2 linked regions of the Homo sapiens genome follow. The protein of the gene in region 2 interacts with the protein of the main gene of each other region in a pairwise test. Each region holds a gene or a part of one and is shown on either strand. Other genes may lie near its edges.

The links. The genes of interacting proteins can lie anywhere in the genome.
Region 1: the proteins of RAPGEF4 (region 2) and BMERB1 interact in binary tests that used the Homo sapiens proteins (3 or more experiments, as listed by UniProt).

The regions. Positions count from the first base shown.
Region 1 is NC_000016.10:15,429,645-15,437,590, forward strand, and holds the start of BMERB1 (bMERB domain-containing protein 1), read left to right. Parts: upstream 1-4,943; 5' UTR 4,944-5,009; coding exon 5,010-5,115; intron 5,116-7,946.
Region 2 is NC_000002.12:172,731,793-172,738,862, reverse strand, and holds the start of RAPGEF4 (rap guanine nucleotide exchange factor 4), read right to left. Parts: upstream 3,019-7,070; 5' UTR 2,880-3,018; coding exon 2,815-2,879; exon of another isoform or gene 2,473-2,814; coding exon of another isoform or gene 2,438-2,472; intron 1-2,437.

The DNA.
Region 1 (7,946 bases), on a different chromosome or scaffold from region 2:
ACATGGCAAAAACTACATCTCCGCTAAAAATACAAAAATTAGTTGGGCAAGGTGGTGCATACCCGTAGTCCCAGCTACTAAGGAGGCCTGGGCGGGAGGACTGCTTGAGCCCGGGAGGTGAGCAGTGAGCCGACATCCCACCACAGCACGCTAGCCTGGGTGACAGAGCGAGACTCTGTCTCAAAAAAAAAAAAAAAAAGGAATCACAGTATTTTTAAATTTCTACCATTATCATTCTATAAAATATGATTGAGATTACAGTGTGCACTTGATCTTAGCCAAAAGATCCAGAATGACAGCTCACACTTTATATTACAATTTGTATTCTACTTTTCCTGATATTTTGATTAAATTGTGCTATGTTTTCCCTATGACATTTCCCTATTACATTTCTTTGTAAACATCATTTTAAATAAGTGTACAGTGTTACATTGCAGGCATACCATAAGTTTAGCCATTTCCCTTTTGTAAGATACTGACCCTTTTCTAATTTTTTCTACAGTTTACATAAATTGTAAAAAAAATATATTGTGTGAATGTATTTTTAGTAATTCAGATATTCCTTCGGGTAGATTTCCATGAGTTGAATTTTTAGATCCAATAGATGTATTTTTTCTTTTTTAAATTATAAAATATTTTAATGTAGAGATAATTACATGACAAAGATCCCTAAATGCACCAACCGTCTTTTAAGGGATACACACCCTTTTATTTATATATTATGTCTGTAAGATTCATCCATTTTGTTGGTAGTAATTTGTTTGTTTTTTTTTTTTTTTTTTTGTGAGACAGGGTTTCACTCTGTGGCCCAGGCTGGAGTGCAGTGGCATGATCACGGCTCACTGCAGCCTGAACCTCCCACGCTCAAGTGATCCTCCTGCCTCAGCCTCCTGAGTAGCTAAGACTACAGGCACACACCACCCATGCCTGGCTAATTTTTGTATTTTTTGTAGAGAAGGGATTTTGCCATGTTGCCCAGGCTGGTCTCGAACTCCTGGGCTCAAGCGATTTGCCCACCTCAGCCTCCTCAAGTGCTAGGATTACAGGTGTGAGCCATTGTGCCTGGCCAGTAGTTTGGTCTTTTTCGTTGCTGTGCAGATTCAGTTGTATGAATATAGCATAATTTTTGTCCATTCTATTGTTGATAGACATTTGAGTTGTTTTCATTTCTTGTCATTATGAGTAAAGCTCTTAACATTGGTGGACACAAGTATGTATTTCTCTTAGGGATATATCCAGGAATAGAATTGCTGCCAGACAGAAAAATATATATGTATTTGTAGCTTTAGAGGGTATTGCCAGTCTTTTTTTATTTCTTTCTTTTTTATTTTGAGACAGTCTCACTCTGTCGCCCACGCTGGAATGCAGTGGCGCAATCTCAGTTCACTGCAATCTCTGCCTCCCGGGTTCAAGCGATTCTCCTGCCTCAGTCTCCTGAGTAGCTGGGATTACGGGCATGTGCCATCACGCCTGGCTAATTTTTGAATTTTTTTAGCACAGACGAGGTTTTGCCATGTTGGGCTGGTCTTGAACCCCTGACCTCAGGTGATCCGCCCACCTCAGCCTCCTAAAGTGCTAGGATTACAGGCGTGAGTCACCACGCCCAGCCATTATCTCTCATTTTCTAAAGTGGTAGTACCATTTTATACTCCGAACAGCAATAAATTGTAGTTACATTCTTACTAACTGCTAACTCATTTATTTACTAGCATCTGGACTAACATTTGGTATTGTCAGTCTTTTTAATTTTAGTCATTCTGGTAAGGGTGTAGTGCCCACCAGCCATCTCCAACAGATTTTAACATATATGCTTCAGATCTCTTTTAAGAAATATAAATTTAAATATTCATTAGTGAATCTAGTAAGGGATGTGTGTGCGTGTGTATATATATATATATTGTATATATACACACACATATACAAGAAAATAACATACATATTATATAAAATAACGTATATATACACATACTGTATATATACACACACAAACTATATATATATATGTGTGTGTGTGTGTATTTTGGAGACAGGGTCTCACTCTGTCATCTAGGTTGGAGTAGAGTGGTGTGGTCTTGCCTCACTGTAGCCTCGACCTCCCAGGCCCAAGCAGTCCTCCTACCTCAGCCTCCTGAGTATCTGGAATTATAGGTGTGTGCCACCACACCTGGTTAATGTTTTAATTTTTGTAGAGATGGAAAACTGCTTTGCTGCCCAGGCTGGTCTCGAACTCCTGAGCTCAAGGATTCCTCCCACCTTAGCCTCCCAAAGTGCTGGGATTATAGGCATGAGCCACCGCACCTGGCCAAGGTCTGTATTTTTCTTATTGTACTAAACTTGCAACTTTTCTGTAGATTTAAAAATTTTCAAAATACTGTAAATAGTTTAAAAATATATAAATTTTAGATATAGCTGAAACTAACTACTTACCCTTTCCCAGCCTCCTAAAGTAATTACTATCCTGAATGTAATGTTTATTGTTTTTTTTTTTTTTTTTTGAGACAGCGTCTCACTGTCACTGAGGCTGGAGTGCAGTGTCATGATCTCAGTTCACTGCAACCTCCGTCCCACGGGTTCAAGTGATTCTCCTGCCTCAACCTCCTGAGTAGCTGGAATTACAGGTGTGCGCCACCAGGCCCGGCTAATTTTTTTTTTTTTTTTTTTTTTTGTATTTTTAGTAGAGACGGGGTTTCAGCATGTTGGCCAGGCTGGTCTCGAACTCCTGACCTCAGACTAACCGCCCGCCTCAGCCTCCCAAAGTGCTGGGATTACAGGCGTGAGCCACTGTGCCTGGCCTGGTACAACTAATTTTAAAAGCAGGTTGACACTCTAGTCCAACTGGCAGATGTGCATACCCCATGCCATTGTAATTTTTCCCCCTAGAAAAACTCCTATTCAGTCGTACAGGGAAATGAGTATAAAAACATTTGCTGCTGCCATGTTTGTAATTGTGGACAATTGGGAATAATCTTTATACCTCATCAATGAAAAAATAGACCAATTATGGTTCATTCATGTAGAATACTATACAGTAGACTATGAACCAGAGTTACATGAATCAGAATTCGTATTTCTCAAAAGCATAATGTGGGCCGGGCACGGTGGCTCACGCCTGTAATCCTAGCACTTTGGCAGGCTGAGGCAGGTGGATCACTTGAGCCCAGGAATTCAAGACCAGCCTGAGCAACACAGTGAAAACCTGTCTCTATCTTTTTAAAAGGAAGAAAAGCATATTGTGGAACAACAACAGAAAAAAGCAACTTGCAGAATTATAAAGTATGATATCATTTGTATAAATTATAAGAAAATGTTAAATAGCGCTATTATATATAATTTGTAGAGTTATACATATATACCTGAGAACAATAAACATTACATTCATGCAGCCAGGCACAGTGGCTCATTCCTGTAGTCTCAGCACTTTGGGAGACCAAGGCGGGCAGATCACTTGAGCTCAGGAGTTCGAGACCAGCCTGGCCAACATGGTGAAACCACATCTCCATTAAAAATACAAAAAATTAGCTGGGCATGGTGGCACGCCTGTAGTCGCAGCTACTCAGGAGCTTGAACCCAGGAGGTGGAGGTTTCAGTGAGCCGAGACTATGCCACTGCACTCCAGCCTGGGTGACAGAGAGAAAAAAACAGTTGTACCAATTTATACTCCCACTAGCATTAGATAAAAGTTCAAATTATGCCAGGCATGGTGTCTCACATCTGTAACCCCAGCATTTTTGGACTCTGTCTCAAAAAAAAAATCCACATCTTTTACAACACATGATTGTTAGATTTTTTAGTTTTTGCCTATCGGATGATATATTCTTATTTACATTTTCATTTTCCTTATTACTAAGGGGGTTGAGCAGCTTCTCACATTAGGCCTTCCTCCTCTGCCCACATGACATGACTATTCATATTCTTTCCCTGTTTCCTACTGGGATATCATTTTCTTTTTTTCGTTTCTTTTCTTTTTTTGAGACGGAGTTTTCCTCTTGTTGCCCAGGCTGGAGTGCAATGGCATGATCTCGGATGACTGAAACCTCTGCCTCCCAGGTTCAAGCGATTCTCCTGCCTCAGCCTCCCGAGTAGCTGGAATTACAGGCCTGCGCCATCACAGCTGGCTAATTTTTGTATTTTCAGTAAAGATGGGGTTTCACCATGTTGGCCAGGCTAGTCTCAAACTCCTGGCCTCAAGTGATCCACCCACCTCGGCCTCCCAAAGTGCTGGGATTACAGGCATGAGCCATCGTGCCCAGGCACTGCCATGGTGTTTTTTGTTTGTTTGTTTGTTTGTTTTTAAAGATAAACCTCTGGGGTTTCTGGAAAGTAAAGCCCCATGCTCCAAACAGCTCTGCTATACCTGTGTGCAAAATATTTTCATCTCTCTCTCTCTCTCCCCAAAGTGCATGCAAACACATATGGAACTGACATAGGCATCCACTGTCGCACTTCAAATTAAACAGACGCACACGACAGATATTCTCACAGAAAAGCAGTCAGCCAAGCCCAGAACCCATAGATCTAGGTCCACACTCACGCCTCTGCATGCTCCCCAGAAAGACGGATGCATCGCCCGCAGGTAGAGACGGGCTCACCAATCCCACTCAAAACCCGCTGCCGGCTTACAGCTCGCAAGCCGCCCACAGTGCCAGCCCCATGCCAAGCATCACTAGGGGCTCTAGAATAGGCAGGGGCCTTGTTCTCACTTCCTTTGTGTTGCTTTTATTTTAGTTGTTTTGTTTGTTGTTTTTCTTAGAGTTATCACCTGCCCCTCTGTCTCCCTACCCAGCCCCCAAGCCTCCCCTCCAAGCCTCCACTGCGCATGTGCCGTGCATCCCTGCCCCTTCTGGGTACCCGTAGGCGCTCCCGGGCGCTGGCGGCGGCGGAGGAGAGGGAGCAGCGTCACGGGCGCCCGGCCCGTTAAAACGCTGCTGGCTGGAGCCACCTCCCTCCCTGCAGCCCGCAACGGGAATGGAGTAAAGGGAGACCCGTCGACCTGGCCACGGGGATCAGCGATGGAATTAAAGCAATCTTTGTCCACCCATCTGGAAGCCGAGAAGCCTCTGAGGCGCTATGGGGCGGTGGAGGAGACGGCTTGGAAAACGGAGAGACTGGGGAGAAGTGAGTACTGGGGCGGGGGGCGGGGGGCCGGGGACAGCTGGGGATCCATGCGCCTGCGCGGGTGGTCGCGGGAGCGCGAGGAACGCCAGCAGTGGACCCAGGGAAGCGCCCCCGCAGCGGGGCTGGCAGCTCAGGGGGATACGCAGCTCTGCGCAGCGACGCGCTCTCCCCGCGAACAAAAGGGGGGGACCCTCCGGGCTGAGCCTCACTGGGAGGGTTGGGAGATGGCCAGGCAGCTAAGGCAGGAGCCTGGGCTCGACTTAGGAGTCCCGGATCCGTCAGCTCGCAGCTGGTCCTGTGAAGTCGGGTCTCTCCCACAGCCCAGGGAGGAGGATCCTCTCTCCGCCTGGGATGCGCCAGGGCGCTGGAGACGCGGGACCGTCCTGGAAAGCGCCCACGTCCCTGGAGAGGGGGGAGTGTCTGCTGGTTTTCCGCTTGCTTTCCTACCCCCTGCGTGAGGTTTCGGAGCGCACCTGAAATTCCCAGCTTTTCCTCCCTCGCCTTCCTTGGGTCGGGGTGGGAGGCTTGGGGCGGCAAAAGGGTCAAAAGGCACACACCGTTCTCTTTTCTCTCTTGACTCAGTTAAAGTCTGCTTGGGCACAACTCTAGAAGGCAGTTTCGAAATAGACCGGCTGTATTTATTTACTGGTTCTCTCTGCGGTGTTTGGATGTCAACATTTCTAAGTAAACGAAGGATTTTGTTTTTCATTAATAGGATACAATAGTTGAAACTCCTGCCCTCAAAGTGTAGAGGCAGCGTCAGGGGCTCCAGGGTCACTGGAGGTCCCTGCAAACCCGGGGGCTCCCCAAAGCCGCTGCTCTCACATGGCTTGCCCACCAGGCTGGGAAGGAGAGGTCCTTCTCAGGGACCCGGCAGCTTCCTGCCTCGGCTCTGGGTCACTGCTCCGCGCTCTGCCCCAGCACGGATCTCTGAGCGATGTAGGGCTAAAGTATTGTGAATGTGATCTTATTCTGTCCTCACCTGGTGGAAAATTGTGTGTGCGCGCTTTCTTTCTCTATACCTGTAATTATGGATTTAGAAAATCTTCCTAGAAGGGCTCAACTGTGTTCTGATTCTGACGGGTTGAAGTTGAAATCACAATCCAATGTCTTAGTGGTTCATGGGCTAGGATGGATGTCATAGCACTGCCAACCTCTTTCCTTTTCTTTTTTTTTCTCCCTTTTTAACCTTGGTCTTTCTTTCTAGTTCATCCTTTCAAGACCCAATGACTTGGTGCTTTGGCATAATATCAGGGCGTCAGGGCTGAGGGTCTCTGTTTCTTTCTTTAATTTTTAAGTGCACATAGTGGGTGTCCATATTTATGGAATACATGAGATATTTTGATACAGGCATACAATGTGTAATAATCACATCAGGGTAAACGGGGTATCCAAAACCTCAAGCATTTATCCTTTTTTTTGTGTTACAAACAATCCAATTACACTCCTTTTTTAAAAAAGCCCAGCTGTGTGACTAATTATACTCTTTTAGTTTAGCTTTTTTTTTTTTTTTTTTGAGACGGAGTTTCGCTCTTGTTGCCCAGACTGGAGTGCAATGACACAATCTCGGCTCACTGCGACCTCCACTTCCTGGGTTCAAGCGATTCTCCTGCCTCAGCCTCCAGAGTAGCTGAGATTACAGGTGCTCGCCACCATGCCTGGCTAACTTTTGTATTTTTAGTAGAGATGGGGTTTCACCATGTTGGGCAGGCTGGTCCCGAACTCCTGACCTCAGGTGATCGGCCTGCCCTGGCCTCCCAAAGTGCCGGGATTACAGGTGTGAGGCACCCCACCTGCCCTCTTTTAGTTATTTTTAAATGTACAATAAATTGTTGACTGTAGTCATCGTGTTGTGCTATCAGATACTAGATCTTATTCATTCTATCTACCTATATTTTTGTACCCATTAACCATCTCTGTGTCCCCCCATCCCAATACCCTCCCCAGCCTCTGGTAACCATCATTCTACTCTGTATCTCCATGAGGGTCTCTTGTTTCTTACAAGCTCAAAATAATCTCAACAATGGCTGCCTTTTATTGCTAGATGACCATGTGCTGAGAACTCTAAATGCATCATTTCATTTAGTCCCCTCAACAACCTCCTGCAGTACTAAGATTTATAAATTTAAATCTTGCCTAGATTTAAAAAAACATTTTAAAATAAAAATTTTAAAACAAAACATTTTAAAATAAAAAATTTAAATATAAATTTAAAATCTTGCATAGATTTAAAAAAACAAAACAAAACTGGGACTTGTTAGGTGATCTGACAGTTAAGTGGCAGAACCAGGATTTGAACCCCGGTCTGTTGGACCCCAGAGCCTGCTTTTAACATGAAGGTTTATTGCTTTCATGGTTTCAGAAAACTTCCTAAGTCTATTGAGATAGTCACAGAACATGCTCAGTGATTTTATAATTATGTGGCAGCCCTGTTGCTCTCTGAAGCTCACAGAGGCCTTAAAAAAATGCTGGGTCCACGCAGAATGGAAGCTGTTCACAAGAGTGCTGCTTTGAATCCTCACTCTGTGCCTTGCTGGCTATGTGACTTTAGGAGTATTGCTAAGCCTCACTCTGCCTTCATTTTCTGAAAATAGAGATTATGTCTTTATTGTGTATACTAAATAAGATGATACATATAGTACTCAAGGTTAAGTGCTCAATACGTATTGTTCACTTCCATTCGGTTACTGCACAACATTTATAGACAGAACCTGCTTTTACTCTTTGCAAGGAATTATGTAAATATTGGTCAATTCTTCAATAATGCCCTTGTAGCTTTTTATATCTTAACATTTTATGAGAAAAAATTTGAAACATGCAGGAAAATTGCA
Region 2 (7,070 bases):
TTTTAACTCTCTTTTTATTTCCAGTCCCAGGGTTTCTCTTTTTTTCACCATCCACAACAGTTGTCACTTGAATGAGGCATATATTTGAACTGTGTTTCCCAGTTACGTCCTTTTCCCAGTTGAAAGGTCCCAGCATCATATTCCCAAGTGAACCCACATGGGTTCATTGTACTTTCTCTTTTGTGCAGGGTTGAAAATGTCCATAATAAAAAAGATTTTATAAAAATAGAGCATACATTCCTATACTCTAGATTTGGTCACAAGAGGAATTTGTGGTTGGGAAGAAATTAGCATATTCATATGCCACACCACTCCCTGGCATGCCCTCCCTATTCTGTGCCTGGTAAAATTGTTCTCAGCCTCTGAGTTCTAGGCAGGACACCTATGGAAGTATCTCGATAACTCTCTCATCTGCATTCCCAAAGCACTTTATACATCTCCATTAAAGCACTTACTATTGCATTGTGGTTAGCTGTTTATAGAGCCGTCCCACCACCAATCTCCCCTACCCTCTAAGCCTACAAGCAACTCTCATATTTTGTTGCATCCCCAGTGCCCAGCACAGTGCCTGGAAAAGAAGATCAAGATAGCATTTAAAAGAGGATCAAGATAGCATTTCACAGTGCCTGGAAAAGAGGATCAAGACAGCATTTCTCAGAAACATTGAGGGCAGTGTCTCCACTAAACAGGTGTTTCAGGGGGCTTCCCTAGCCAACTTCCATAAACACTCTCAACCTTTCTCCTTTCCTAAAAAAAATAAATAAATAAACAATCTAAGTAAAAACACAACTTCAAAACAAGTCCCCCCATGGCCTTCATACAATGAGATTGCTGCCCTAAACTGTTCCTCATTGGAATTAATTCTGGCATGAACACTGCAGAACATGCAAAGTTCTTTTAATACCACAAAACAAAAAGCCTACATGGCACTCACAGTTTTCAAACTATTTCACCTTTTTTTTCTCCTTCCATTTGTCCACTTATCCCTGATAGTCCTATCCTCATTTTTCAGACACTCAAGGAAGTAAAAGTGACATGTCCAATATCAGAACTGGTAACAGCTCTGTGCCTAAAACCCTTAACTTATTGATCTATCCACTCATCTGACTCTTCTGATGCTAGGCTCAGTATCTGTGAAGGGTTTTTTTTTTTTTCCTAGATTTTTTTCCCATTATGAATGGTGGCATTAAATGGGGGCACCATGCTCTAAAAAATCCATTTCAAGCAAAATCATTTAGGCAGATACACATTATGAAAAGAGAGAGTCGAATATGTCCCACTTGTGTTAGTATTGCTCTATGATTTTGCCATAAGTACTTCTTATTGACTAACGGGTTTCCAGTGAATTACCGACTGTTCAAAAAATGCCATGCCATGCATTTCTACACATAGAAATATGTTATTATCTAAAAATTTTGCTCATAAGGAAGCACTACTATTTATAGGTTAAGTGCAAGATCCTGAATCCCATATAATTCCTTTTTCCTGAACTATTAAATGTAGATACTTATCACATTAACAACCTCTATACTTTAAATACTCTTAGTTCTTCTACATAATCCTGTGTGATTTAACTATTACTTTAATTCTCTTACTATTTATTGCATGCAACTCTTTTAATATTAGTACATATCATTTTAGACATAAATAGGGCACTACCTGCCAAAAAATCTTGCTACTGAGTGGTAATTGAAAGTCAAGATTATTTCTCAGATATATTAAGCTTTTCAAATGAGCTACATTTAGCTTTTCTCAAATTACTTAATATTTTTCAACAAAGGCCTATAATAGAGTATGCAAAGCACGTCACACTTAAGATTTTCAAGTTTGATCTGGTTACGAATCTGTTAATTGAAAATTTTTCAATATGGCAGAGCACAAAATATTTCACACAAATGCAAATAGAGATGTCATGCAGATAGCTGCAAGACGTGCATCATTGCCCTTCTGCATCAAACTCCGAAATTCAGAGGCAGTTCACTCTGCAAGATTTCTTGCTCAGTTCTTAAAAGTTCAGATGCATCACCTTTTAATCAGGGTAATAAGCTATAATTGCTAACATACTGTGTAACGTTTAAACCTGCAATCTGGACAAACAGAAAATTATGCTGTCACAGCCTGGAAACAACTGCAATCCACTGTTAACACACACATCCTCCTTAGAGAGAGCTGTCGTCGGGAGTTACATGCTTTATGGTTTTAATTATTTTTAGCGTAAAGATCTTTTCCCGAGAAGCAGGTATTAAGACGAAAGCAGCCTCCCAAATGACCTTCTCTAACACAGACCTTGAGCGAGCGACTGCGGGGGCAGAGAGCTGTGAATTTCAGCAAGGGATTCGACAGCTCCACCGGGTCCCTCACACTTTGCTTTCAAGAACAAAAAAAGAATGTTACTCTGCACCTGCCGGTGCCCCCACCCCTCTTTAAAACTTCATACCCCGCAAGGTCTGAATAGCCGGAAAGGGTATGCATCGATTCTTCTGTCCCGTGATGCCAAGAGAAAATAAACCCCCACCCAGGAGCGGAGCCTGGAGTCGCGGCAGGGCAGGGGGTTGGAGAGGTGGGTGCTCTCTCCCCTTACTGCGCTGCATTTTCTCCACCACGTGTAATAATCTCATGCCGCTGGCACCCCACGAGAGGCGGGGATCCTTGTCCTCCTGTCTCCCGGACGAGGACCTCAACCCCTTCCCCCGCTCGGGGACCCCGGCCACCCGCAGCCCGGCCGCGCTGCGCCCAGGTGCGGAGCTGCGGCGGTCTCAGGGCCCGGGCAGCACCGCAGAGCTCGGCCCCCGGCTGCGGCCCCCGGCGAGCTACCTTTTATCCAGGCAGGCGATCCACTCGGCAGAGGAGGAAGAATGGGCAGCGTGCGCAGCGACCATGTTGAGCGGCGGCGCGCGGTGTCCCTGGCTGCGGCGACCTCCCGCGCTCGCTCTGCCTGCGCCTCCGCCCCCGCCTCGTCCGCCGCGCGGACCCCGCTCCTCCCGGACGCCTGGCGACCAGCGCGGCTGCGACAGGCCCGCCCTCCCCGCGGGCTCCCGCGGCCTGGGGCGGTGGGGAGAGGGAGGGGACCCGGGGGGCGGGACGCGGGTGCGGGGAGGGCCGAGTCGCCCGCCCGCCCGCCGCTGCACTGCGGCGCCCGTGGGTGGGGATTCCGCCCCGGGGTGGGGACCCCGCGGTCCCGCTGCTGGGGGACACTGGGGGTGGCGACCCCGGTGGCCGGCCACCTGCGACAGGTGTCCGCTGCGTCCCTCGGAGACTGGGGCCCCACCCTCACCCCGGGGCCTCTGAGGCGGGGCGGGAGGGCAGGCGCCAAGGCAGAGTGGGGAGAGGGCTGCCAGTGTCTATATATTTTTCATACAGCAAATGCTACTAAAATGGCTGCTGCCTCTCTGTTTCCTTAGAAACCCATGAGTCTTCCTCAGCAGCTGTCGAAACTTGCCGGCGGTTGCTTGCTCACCTTTGCTGTCTCCCCTTCAGAAAAGGCTGGAGGGGAGGGCGAGGAAGGCTTGGCGTGGGGACGCCCGTCGAGTCTCTCAGTGAGGAATGAGAGGCCAGCTTCTCCTGCGGGGTGAGGAAGGGCTGGGCGCAATGGGGGGCAGTGCGGGCAGGGCTGAGGGGCAGGGAGGGAGGAGGCCGGTGGGCCCGATGTGGTCTGAGGGGGTGACAGGCTGAAGTCACTGGCCTTGAACCCTGGGCCTGCCTGGGCTTCCATCACCTGCATGGTGAAGAAAACACAGTTGAGAATGGGGAGTAGCCGGGCCACAGCAGAACCGAGACCCCGGACGCGCAGGTGAACTTGTATGGCTGGCCCCCTTGCTGTTCTTCCTCTGGCTGGAGTGTTGAATGGGTGGTGATAACGGCCTGTCTCTTGTAGATGTTCACACAAATGTCATGTCTACAAGTTATTCAGTTACACTCTGCCAAGAACCAAATTACACGCCAATGGTTGTTTAGGAATTTGCGGACAAGTTAAATGTTTTGGACTATTACCAAGCACTGTTTTGATATTTATGGCACTACATTTGGGGCCAGACAATGGGGGAAAGGGACATAGCATTGCTTTCTTCTACTGTTCCCTGCCTCCTCCCCCCACCAAACCTCCTATCCAACCCTGCTCAGGGGAGAGTCAGGGGGACTGGAGAGAAGGAAAGAGCAAGTGCTTTCTGGGATGCTTTGATCCTAATAAAACAATTATTACCATGATATAAAAGCCTCCAAATATGTGCCATTTCCCTCTGCTGGATAGCCAGGATCTAGTTTCAGACCTGCCACAGTGTTCCCACAGCAACTCCTCCCTCCCTGCTCAGGGCTTTTCCCCCAGTTAACCTTCATTCTGTTAATTTCTATCATGTTTATGCTAATATTTAAAATAATATACTATAGAAAGATTAACCAAAGGTATTTATGTTGTGGCTTTTTTACTATACAGGTATGAAGGAGGAACTGTATCTCCTATATATATTAAGTTTCATTTATAAAGACATCAGAGAGCACCTGAGAATGTTTCAAGGTCACCAAAAGCTTTCTGAAAATGCCTTTCTGCAAAGAAGGTTTCCAGGTAAGGAGCTAGAGGAGAAAGGAGCTGCACATCACCTGTCATCACACAGAGGCTCAGAGTTGCCATAGCTTTGGTTATGATACTAATAATAGTCGCCATTTATTGAACATCCACTGAGTGTTAGACCCTGTGCAGTACTCCTTACATGTGTGATCCCATTTAATCTTCAGAACACTCTATGAGGCAGAGCCAGAAAGACACTACTCCACAAACAGCAATAAATATCCTTGAAAATGTAGTGAAATATTGAAAATGATATGTATCAGTACTTTCAGGGAGAGTGTTAATTGGATTGGAAGGAAGACACTGATGAGCTGCTGGGAGTGAGAGTGAGACCCTCGAGGAGTCCACAGTGCATTTTAAGGAGTGTAGCTCTGATGAACTGCAAGGCCTTTGTTTTGCTGTGTGGGGGCCCTGCCTCTTCTCTAAAGAGAAGTTGAAGACTTATTTAAAGAACATCCTTTCGAAGGAGAACCAACAATCACTAGCTTGTCCAGAGCATGCTCATGTCTTCATCCAGCCCTGGAGGTAGGTACAAGTAACTCCAAGATACTCACTAAGACACTGAACTCAGGAAGGGTCCATAACCCAGCTACAGGAGATGGGGCCCCGGAGTGGAATTTGGGTCTGTCTGATTCCAAACCCTTCCACATCAGTGATGGTGTCCCTGTTTCTGCCAATAGAATGGGAGTATAGGGCATGTCTACAATGACTGTCCAGAGGGTAAGAACAAAATAGTTATAAATCAGTTTTTTAATGTAAAAATAGAGAAATGTGTGAGGAATTAAAAAACAGAGATCCTTAAAACATCAGGAATAGCTTTACTGTCCTATAGATTATCTTGTGATCTGAAAGGGATTTGATTGCTGGTCAAGAACTACAGGAGTAAAGGAAACTCTGTTGATAATTAGTTATTATAGTATTAAGAGGAAGAAAACAGGCTTTTGCTTGGATTGGATGGGAAAGGCAAAGAACCAAAGAATATTTATTCATTTCCCTCTCTTTAAAAGAACACAATATATGTCAGTCCCAAAAGAGCATATGTTGTATGATCCTATTTATGTGAAACTTCCAGAAAAAGCGAATCTATAGAGATGGAAAATAGATTAGGGATTGCCTAAGGCTGGGAGGTGGGAATAAGGGATGACTGCAGATGGGCCTGAGAAATCTTCTAGAAATGATCTAAAATTGAACTGTGGTGATGGATACACAACTCTATAAATTTAATAACAATCATCAAATGGTATAGTTAAAATGAGTGAATTTTACAGTATGCAAATTATCTCAATAAAAATGTTAAGTAAATAAAATATTAATAAACCTATATGGAGAGGAAAAATAATATGATTGATCTTTTGGGGGGAAACAGAGAAAAATATAGGAGAAAAAGTAAAAATTACCCATAATTCCATAACATAGAGGTAATACTGTTAATATTTTAGTGCATTTAATTCTAAACTTTTCTATTATGAAAAGATACAATCAAGGCCAAGCACAGTGGCTCACATCTGTAGTCCCAACAATTTCGGAGGACAAGGCAGGAGGATTGCTTGAGGCCAGGAGTTCAAGACCAGCCAGGGCAACATAGTGAGACCCCCCCCATCTCTACAAAAATTAAAAAAAAATTAAAAATTAGAAGTGATATGATCATACATGTACCCACAAACACATACATATAACTAGCTATGTGTATGTATATGTGTGCATATATGTATGTGTATAGATACATGTATTCAAACAGACTTGAAAGCATTAATAGTTTATAGGCTACTTTTTCTATTGGAATGGAAAAATGCTTTACTTTCCTTAAAAAATCCTTAAACATTTTTTCCTGGCCACCAAATATTCTAGTGTACAGTTATAATTTACTTACACTATCTTTTGAGACTTGTTTTTTCACTTGGAAAAGGTATTATCTGTTTAATCTCCTTCCTATAGTTTAGTGAATTCTTTCTCTACTAGAGAACTAAGATCTCTACTGAAGATCTCCATGAGACAAGGATGAGACAAGACCAATATCTGTTAATGCTATGTAGATCCTCGAATGAGTTGCTAAAATGTCTGATTTCCATTTTGTTCATCTGAGCAGAGGTTCAAAGTTAGGAATTTGAAGGCAGGCAGCCAAGTTCAAATTGCAGCCATATCTTCTACTAAATGTTTGGCCTTAAATTAACTACTTAGCCTAAGACTCCGTTTCATCATCTGTAGAGTGGAGAAATTAATAGTATTATACATGAATTTGGTATTTGTAAGATATTTAGCATAAGTGCCAAGCACATAGTGAGTGTTCAATAACTCTTAGCTATTATTCTCCATATAGTGCAAATAATACTAGGTGCTCTCTGCATTTCACAGGGACCTGGTGGTGATAAGCTGTCGAGATCACTTATGCTAAAGGGCTTCGACATCTATAAATTGCAAGTTTTGGCTATAAAGGATATGAGGGATGGGTCTCCTGAGAAACCCATAGAAATTCTCCAGGAAATTCTATCATAGATTGGGCATTCACTCA